Linked DNA regions of Homo sapiens. The protein of the gene in region 1 interacts with the protein of each later gene in a pairwise test. Each region holds a gene or a part of one and is shown on either strand. Other genes may lie near its edges. The genes, in order: SH2D1B and STAT4.

Region 1 (3,826 bases):
CCTCAAGTGATCCCCCCACCTCGGCCTCCCAAAGTGCTGGGATTACAGGTGTGAGCCACCACACCCAGCCCAGAACAAATAATCTTTACCTGAAGAGTTGTTGCAGAAAATGGTAAAAGGAAAAAGACTTTTCTTCGCTTTATATGAACAGTGTAACCATGATTCAGTAAATTATAGTCCTATTTGGTTTATGAGTTTTAATGCAAAAATCTTAAATGAAATATTAACTTACCAAATTCCACAGTTTATGAAAAATAATAAAATATTATCAAGTGAAGCAATGCAAGGATGAAATGATATCAACAATTTTATTAAGGTAACTTACCTTTATAATGGAGTGAAGACAAAAGGAATGTGACTATCTCAATAGATTAGAGATAGAAAAAAATCACAATAAATGTCAAAATATTTCTAGTAAAAATTATAAAATAGCCTTTAACAAGGCTACAACAAACATAATGTTTAAATAAAGAAAATTTCTAAGCATTCCCTGTAATACTGGGAACAGTGTAAGAATACTCACTATCATGACTATGAACTGTTTAATGTATACAGGAGGCCCTAACCAATGGGTAAACATAAAAAATAAATGAGCATAGGTATTGCAAGGAAAGAGAAAATAAAATGTTATTATTTATAGCTGACAAAATCATTTACATAGAAAACACAATAGAATCAACAGGTAAACTAGTAGATCTAATGAGAGGGTTAACATTTCACCAACACCATATCCTATTAGAAATGTAATAAAACATAAGATATCATTTACAGCAACTAGAAATAGGAATTAATCTAACAGAATATACAAGACTTCAGTTGGGAAAATTTATGACTCCATGAAAGGGCAAAAAAGATGACCCAAGAACATGGATGTGGCATGTTTATGCATGGGAAAACATCACAAGAACGTCAGTTCTCTCCTATTTACAAATTTGTTGCAAGTTCATTAAAAATTCCAAAAAGAGGTTTTAAGCAATTTCACGTATTTATTATAAAATGTATATAGAAGAATCAAGGTCCATGAATACCTAAGCCAGTTTTGAAAAGTAAAAGAGGACATTTGTCCTACCTACCAGACCCAGGGAATAGTAGCCATAAATTGCTGTGACCCCAAATCTCACAATGCTCCACACTTTGGGGCTCCAGCCACAGTGTCTGTTCATCTGTTCATATTACCTCTAAGTCGAGAGCTCCTCTCTTTTAAAACTCTGAAGATAAGTCCAGTGGGGTGAAATACATTACTACAATTTGATGATAGGTAAGAGAAAGGGCATAGAATTTGGTATATTTCAAACTGACCAGGTCCTAATTCACATTTTGAACTAGCAGAAAAATTCAGCAAATCAATTTCAGTAAACCTTAAAAACCAATTCAACAAACCTCCCTCAGCAATGTGCTTCCAGTCAGTTTCTATGAACTAGGCACAGCTCTGGGCAGCACAAATTTCTACACACTGTGGAAGATACAAGGGAGACCCAACCGTGCTTTGATGGCACTTAGAACCTAGTTGGGAACAGAAATCACACATAGAATATTTTAGAAATCTCCACATACATCACTGTACAGAACCACATTCATGCTGTTGAAATGACTGATGCATAAGTGGAATTAAGCAAAACCAGGGAGAAAGTGTGGCTGGGGCAATGCTCACCAGGAAGTTTAAGATTAGAAAGAACCAGGAGGAGAGTAGCCCAGGCTGGAGGGAGAAGGGTGCACATGGGGGTCCAGCAGGTACAGAGAAGGTGCTGATCTGTATGCATCTCCATCACTCCCGATCCCTCACCTTCACCTGACACAAGCAGGCTCAACAGAGAGACTGGGGCAATGTTTATCATCCCACCCAACCACAGAGACAAAGAAACTAAGACCTGGAGATGGGCAGAAACGTGTTCAAAGTCACACAGCCACAGGACTGGAACTCAGGGCTTCAAACTCACAGACAAGTGTGCCCCTCCTCTGTATAAAGCTGCCCCTCTGACTGCATGGTCCAAAGGAGGGTGTCAACCATGATGTAGGGTGGTACCTTTAACAAGTCAAAGGGAAAATGTTCAGGCTGTCCCATTCCAAGAAAGAAGAGTGAAACTGGAGAGGGTTTTGAAATTGCTCCTGGTATATGTCTGGGAGGCGGGGATGTGGAGAGTGACCTCTGGTGCTGGTGGGCAGAACATCTTCAGTTACACAACCAGGAGAGTCTGAATTGTCCACTAGAGTTTGGTGCTCTGGACCTATGCCTGCAGAAGTGGGTCATCAGTGAGAACTGTTACTCATCTCTTCAACTTGCTTTGTCCGGCAGCCTTATCTTCAAGGCAAGACATCCACATAATCGCTGTTACTGTTCTTTGGAGGGAAAAAAAAAGCAGAAGACCAGCCATGAGACCACACCCAGAAGTCATATCAAACAACCCCACTCAAAGGAAAGAAGACCCCTCCCCAGGCACAGAGCCATGTTGATGCCACCTGAAAGTTGTATCTTTAAAGGCTGGGGTACTACAGGGAGCCCTCCTAACAAAATAGGAGATCTCTTTATAAGCCAAGCCTCAGACCTTCCAGCACAAGTGTCTCCATTCACCAGCAAGAAATCTGCACCTCCCTTGGAGTAAGAACATCTGAAGCTTCTTCTAAGGAAGCAATGGGAATGGGAGGAAGAGGTTGATGGGGAATATTTCCTCTTCAGTAGCTGAGAATTTTGGAGCCTGCTGTGTCAGCACTGACCCGGCATGGAAAACTGATGGAGTGAGATTCATGCCCAGGTCTTGGGGAAGATTTCTGAGGGTTCTCCTCCTGGGATTTATGATTCTTTTCTCATTGTTGAGACAAATGCTACCACCACCCCAACCAGTCCCAGCAACTCATCTGGGTTTGCCTAAGGGCTGCAGCACAGATACATTCCTGGGTTTCTAGATCTGCCACACTGTATACTTTTTATTCTATAAATTTGGGGGGGAAAGTAGCTGTGGGACTACATCTGCAGCTGGACCTATAGAAAGTGATTTTTTTGTGTCCATGAGTACACACTGCCCTTCATGGGGATGGGGGGACAGGGACACAATGGTAGGGAAGGGAGTTGTATTTTATGCTTAGCCTTGCTGGGGAAATGAGAAGCCGGCTATGGCAGCCTAAAGGGTGACTTTGCCGCAGACAGAGTAGAATGGGGATGGAGTGATTGCAGGCTCCCAGAGAACTCTCTGTCCTCTGTCCCTCTCCTAGGGAGGATATCTGATCTCATCCCATCACCTGCCACTGATAACTGCCATCCCTTTCACTGAGAATATAACCACACATTCCAACATGGGAAAACAGGATTAAGACCTAAGTGTTTCTGGAAGTCTGAGCTAAATTCAAACAACATTGCAACTGATAGTAAATTCTTTACTGAGAGCAGATTTCAAGAGTGTGGGTAAGGAAGAGTAGCTGCTCATGATATAATTTGAGAGGCTTAGGCAGGGATTCTCTGCACTCAGATTTACTGACCATCTCTCATTTTCCACTACGGCTTAATGCCTTTAAAAATGTATCTGACATAATTTGACACCCAGCACTTTATAAATGAATGCTTAGCAAATATTGAGCAAAGTGTAACAGTATACGCTTTGGGGAGGGCTTGAAGGGCTAGAGTGATTTTCTCATTTGAAAATCTGCCCATTTGCCCATTTATTCTCAAACTTGAATCGTCTGCACAAGGTCACAGAATGAATTTGAAGTCAGCTGTCTGCCCAGGAACCACTCTTGCTATCCTGGCTGCAAACGCAGCAAGCTCTCTGTCTTGGCCCTCAGGGACTAAAAGACAGCACTTCTCAACAAAATGGAAATTGCTCTTAGTAGGATG
Region 2 (3,786 bases), on another chromosome or scaffold:
ATACATTACTATCCAGGAAACCAACTACCCTTCCTCTTTACTAGAGAAAATTGAAGGAATGGAACATCTCATCCTAAACCTCTTTCCCCAGTCTCAGGTTGGATTCTTAGGACCAGAGAGACTATTAGAGCTGGGAAAGATCATAGAACCCACATAGTCTTACCTCTTCTAGAGATGAAGAATGAGCAACCTATGAATAAAATCAGTTACCCAAGGCCAGAGTTGTTATTCTCCTAGTCCTCATTTCATCCTCCTAGTCCTCATGAGTTTTTTTAAATTATTATTTTTTTAACCCATGTGTCTGCTTACAATACCTGTAAAATCAGTGCAGTTTGCCCAAGATACCACCAGGAATGACTCTGGATCCCTCCTCCTTTGGAACCAGCAGCTGTTGAACCCCATAGTTGGAATAACGTTGACATGGCACTAAGGAGGCTTCATAATTCAACCCTGGATGCCCCGTGAATTTCTGCTAATGTCCCATCACGACTTTCCTCTTGGATCTACTGTGATCACCATGCCTGCTAGCGTTCATCATACTGATTGGCTTATTTGGCTTTTCCCTCACGCCTTCTTGCTGAGGTGTAGGTGTGACTTTATTATTCTTGACCTACCCTGAAACATTAACACTTACATCTTCTAGCTAAAATCGTAGTAACACCAGAGAGACAAAATGAGAAATAAACCAAACACAGGCAAGCGAGTCTTCTGTTAATATTGTTATTAACACTGGTTTCTTAAAGTTGTCTTATCTTGCAAGTTTATCTGAAGCTTTGGTTTCAAGCATTTCAGTCACAACACTCCCAATTGAGGAGTGCCACGGGAGTGTGAAGAGAGCTTCAGATGTCAAACATTTCCTAGAACCTGGTATTTACAAAGCTGAAGAAATAAAATGTGGTTATTGGGCAAAGAACAGTCTTTAAACTTTTTCATTTGCTTCCTTTCTTGGTGCGTCAGAGTTTATCCTGTCATTCAGCAGAATAAGGAGACTTCATCTAAAATTAAAAATGAAAATAATCTTTGAGGAAACTACTGGTTTTCAAATCAATCACTATTTCTTGGGCAAATAAACGTCCTCTTTTCTACGAATTACTCCATAATTTTTCTATTACCTAGTTAAAATACTTAAACTAAGTATTTGCAAAAGTAATTGGGGTTGATCAGTCTAAAATAAAAGGTACCTTTCAAGGAGACAGAAAAGTGTTTTAAGAAAAAGGCCTGTTTATCCACCAAAAACATAATGAGGAAATGGGTGCAAAATGTAGCAAATGTTCAGTTAGACATAAATAACTTGACGATTTAAGGGAACTAACATTAGAATAAGCTATCAAAGTAAAGTGAATTTTTCATCTATGGAAATCTTCAAGAGAAGGACTAAAAGCCAGCCAGATAAAAATTTTTTGAGGCTTAGGGTCTCTCCAAGTTTCTATTATATTATTCTGATGTATGTTCACTTTCATGTAAATTGGGGGTTTGAACCCATTGACAGTATTGGTGGATAAGAGCAAATAGCATGCATCCCAAATAACATTATTGCATTAAAGATTATGACTCATTTCTCAAAAAGGAGAGCATTATTATGCCATTGACTGTTATTCATATATTATTGATGAGGCTCCGGGTTCTAGAAATGCAAGTCACAATCAAGAAAAATTGCAATTTGTGATGTTTGCACTGTTAAGATAGCAAACTGGGTTTACTAGATAGTAAGTAACTAGTAAACTAGATAGTATACTAGGTTTATAAATATTGACCAATAAATGGTGTTTGCTAAAGTAGAGAGTGGTGGGGAGTGAGGGGGCCCATGGTGCAAGCAGCGATAGTGTGCTTGAGTAGGGTATAGGAATATTTTGCCCTCTGGTGGTTTCTGGTGGAAACAACGTAAAGCAGTTTAAGTAACTGAAGGTGTCTGCTTTCAATACGCATAATATCAGCAACACGCAGGACCATCCAGACACCTTTTGTGTTATGCTCATGAATTTGTTCCAATAAATGTGTTTTCTCCCTACCCAGGCAGTATTTCAGCCCCTTTGATTCACACACCACCTTTGCATCGTTGGAAACACCTTTGACCAGCAATGGAAAATAAAGGGAACATACTGCAGTTTCAATTGTTGTGGGACTCAGGTTTTCTCTCAACACCGCATACACACTTGGAGACATGGGAAGAAGGTCTGATGGAGAATGTGGCTCTGTTGAATCACTTCGGCTTAAAGAGATAACAAGGTCAATATGGACAAGGATTAAAAAATAATAATAGTTCACGGTGACTTACTATGTCAGGAACTCATTTCTAGGGCTTCATCTATTTGTGACATTGAGTTATCTAATTCATCATTTCATATCAGAACACTCAACTTACTGTGGCATATATGGCATATAAAAGGGGAATTTTATAATTTTAGGCACAATAGATTGTGGTAAGTGTGCCCTGAAGGCTAGCCTTATGTATTAAAGGAAATGGGACATTGCACATTACAATGCTTTGTTCTCAGTTATGTGTACTCTGCTCTACCTTTAAATCTCCTATAGGAAAGCTTTTTATAAAAATATTTCACATGTGACTAACATTACTCACATTGTTGAGATGGGGATAAAAACAGAAGGAACATAACCTTTGTCACCCCTTTCTGTTGGTCTTGAAACTGGAAAACAAAAAGGCACAATGTTGGGGAAAAAAATGTCAATATTATCAATAAAACTGGGGAAAAAAGAGTCTAGAAAAATATTAACAATGATAAGAGGAAGAGAGATAACGCAGTTGTTCGGTGATACACAGAAATGTTTTGTTAAATAGGGGACACAATCTTTTAGATAAGCATAAAATGTGCAAGAAGAGAAAAACAAATCTCTTGGCAGGCCTAATCTGACTTTACATATTAATGCCTCTAAACTGTGTGGGAAAAATTGAGAATCAACTCTATTACCTGTTTTCTACGTTTCATTTATGTTTGATTATAAGGACTGATTGAGTCATGTTTTGGGAGATATAATAACCCAGTTCTTTTCATTAAAATTGACACCAATCAGAATCTTATGATTGCAAACGTTCTTGAAGTACAGATGTCAGTGTTCCCAAAAGTATCATTGTACTGTAGTAACAGTCATGTGCAAACCTCACCTTGGAAAAATTCCCCAAACTTCTCTGGTATACCATGTTGAACTAGTATTTGTTCCAATTTTCCAACCCTAATTTGTTGCATTGATATTTGTTATTTCATTTTTATCAGTTGTTGAAAGTCACTGAAAAGCCACAGGTTTGTTTGATTTTATTTTCTTTTGTATTTTTGTTTATTTCAGAGGGCATGAAGTCAGGTGGCTGCAAGTCTGTGAGTGACAACTGTAGGATATTCTACATGATGGTGCCCAAAGATTTAGTGCTATAGATGAAGATTTTTATGGATTGTATACACTTTCATTAAAGAAACAGAATGGTGAACGTACCTTAAAATTGCATAGTAATTTAACAAATTTTCTTTTATGTATTCAACAAATATTTACTGAATCCCTCTTTTAGCCAGACATTGCTCTAGGTCCTAGGATACAACCAGGAAAGGTAGGCTGGGAGTGTGGGGGAGGGAGAGGATGAAGCAGAGATCCACAGGTCCCCTCCCTAGCAAATGAACAAATACCCTGAGTTGTAAGACTACAGTAAGGTTAAAAATATAAAACTTATAAACCCTGGGGTTCCTTTGCAATATACAGACTTGTTTTACTATTAAAAGCTTCTCATCATTACCCCCTCTTTCTTTTCCTTTCCCTCAGTCATAGACATGAAGCCTGCAC

The links.
Region 2: the proteins of SH2D1B (region 1) and STAT4 interact in a two-hybrid assay, tested with the Homo sapiens proteins (one large-scale study listed by BioGRID and IntAct).

Annotation. Positions count from the first base shown.
Region 1 is NC_000001.11:162,394,979-162,398,804, forward strand, and holds the end of SH2D1B (SH2 domain-containing protein 1B), read right to left. Parts: intron 2,338-3,826; coding exon 2,302-2,337; 3' UTR 290-2,301; downstream 1-289. UniProt on the Homo sapiens protein: Cytoplasmic adapter regulating receptors of the signaling lymphocytic activation molecule (SLAM) family such as CD84, SLAMF1, LY9 and CD244. In SLAM signaling seems to cooperate with SH2D1A/SAP.
Region 2 is NC_000002.12:191,028,872-191,032,657, forward strand, and holds the end of STAT4 (signal transducer and activator of transcription 4), read right to left. Parts: intron 3,444-3,786; exon of another isoform or gene 3,301-3,443; intron 2,646-3,300; coding exon 2,579-2,645; intron 2,227-2,578; exon of another isoform or gene 2,210-2,226; coding exon 2,101-2,209; exon of another isoform or gene 2,014-2,100; intron 996-2,013; coding exon 969-995; 3' UTR 705-968; downstream 1-704. UniProt on the Homo sapiens protein: Transcriptional regulator mainly expressed in hematopoietic cells that plays a critical role in cellular growth, differentiation and immune response. Plays a key role in the differentiation of T-helper 1 cells and the production of interferon-gamma.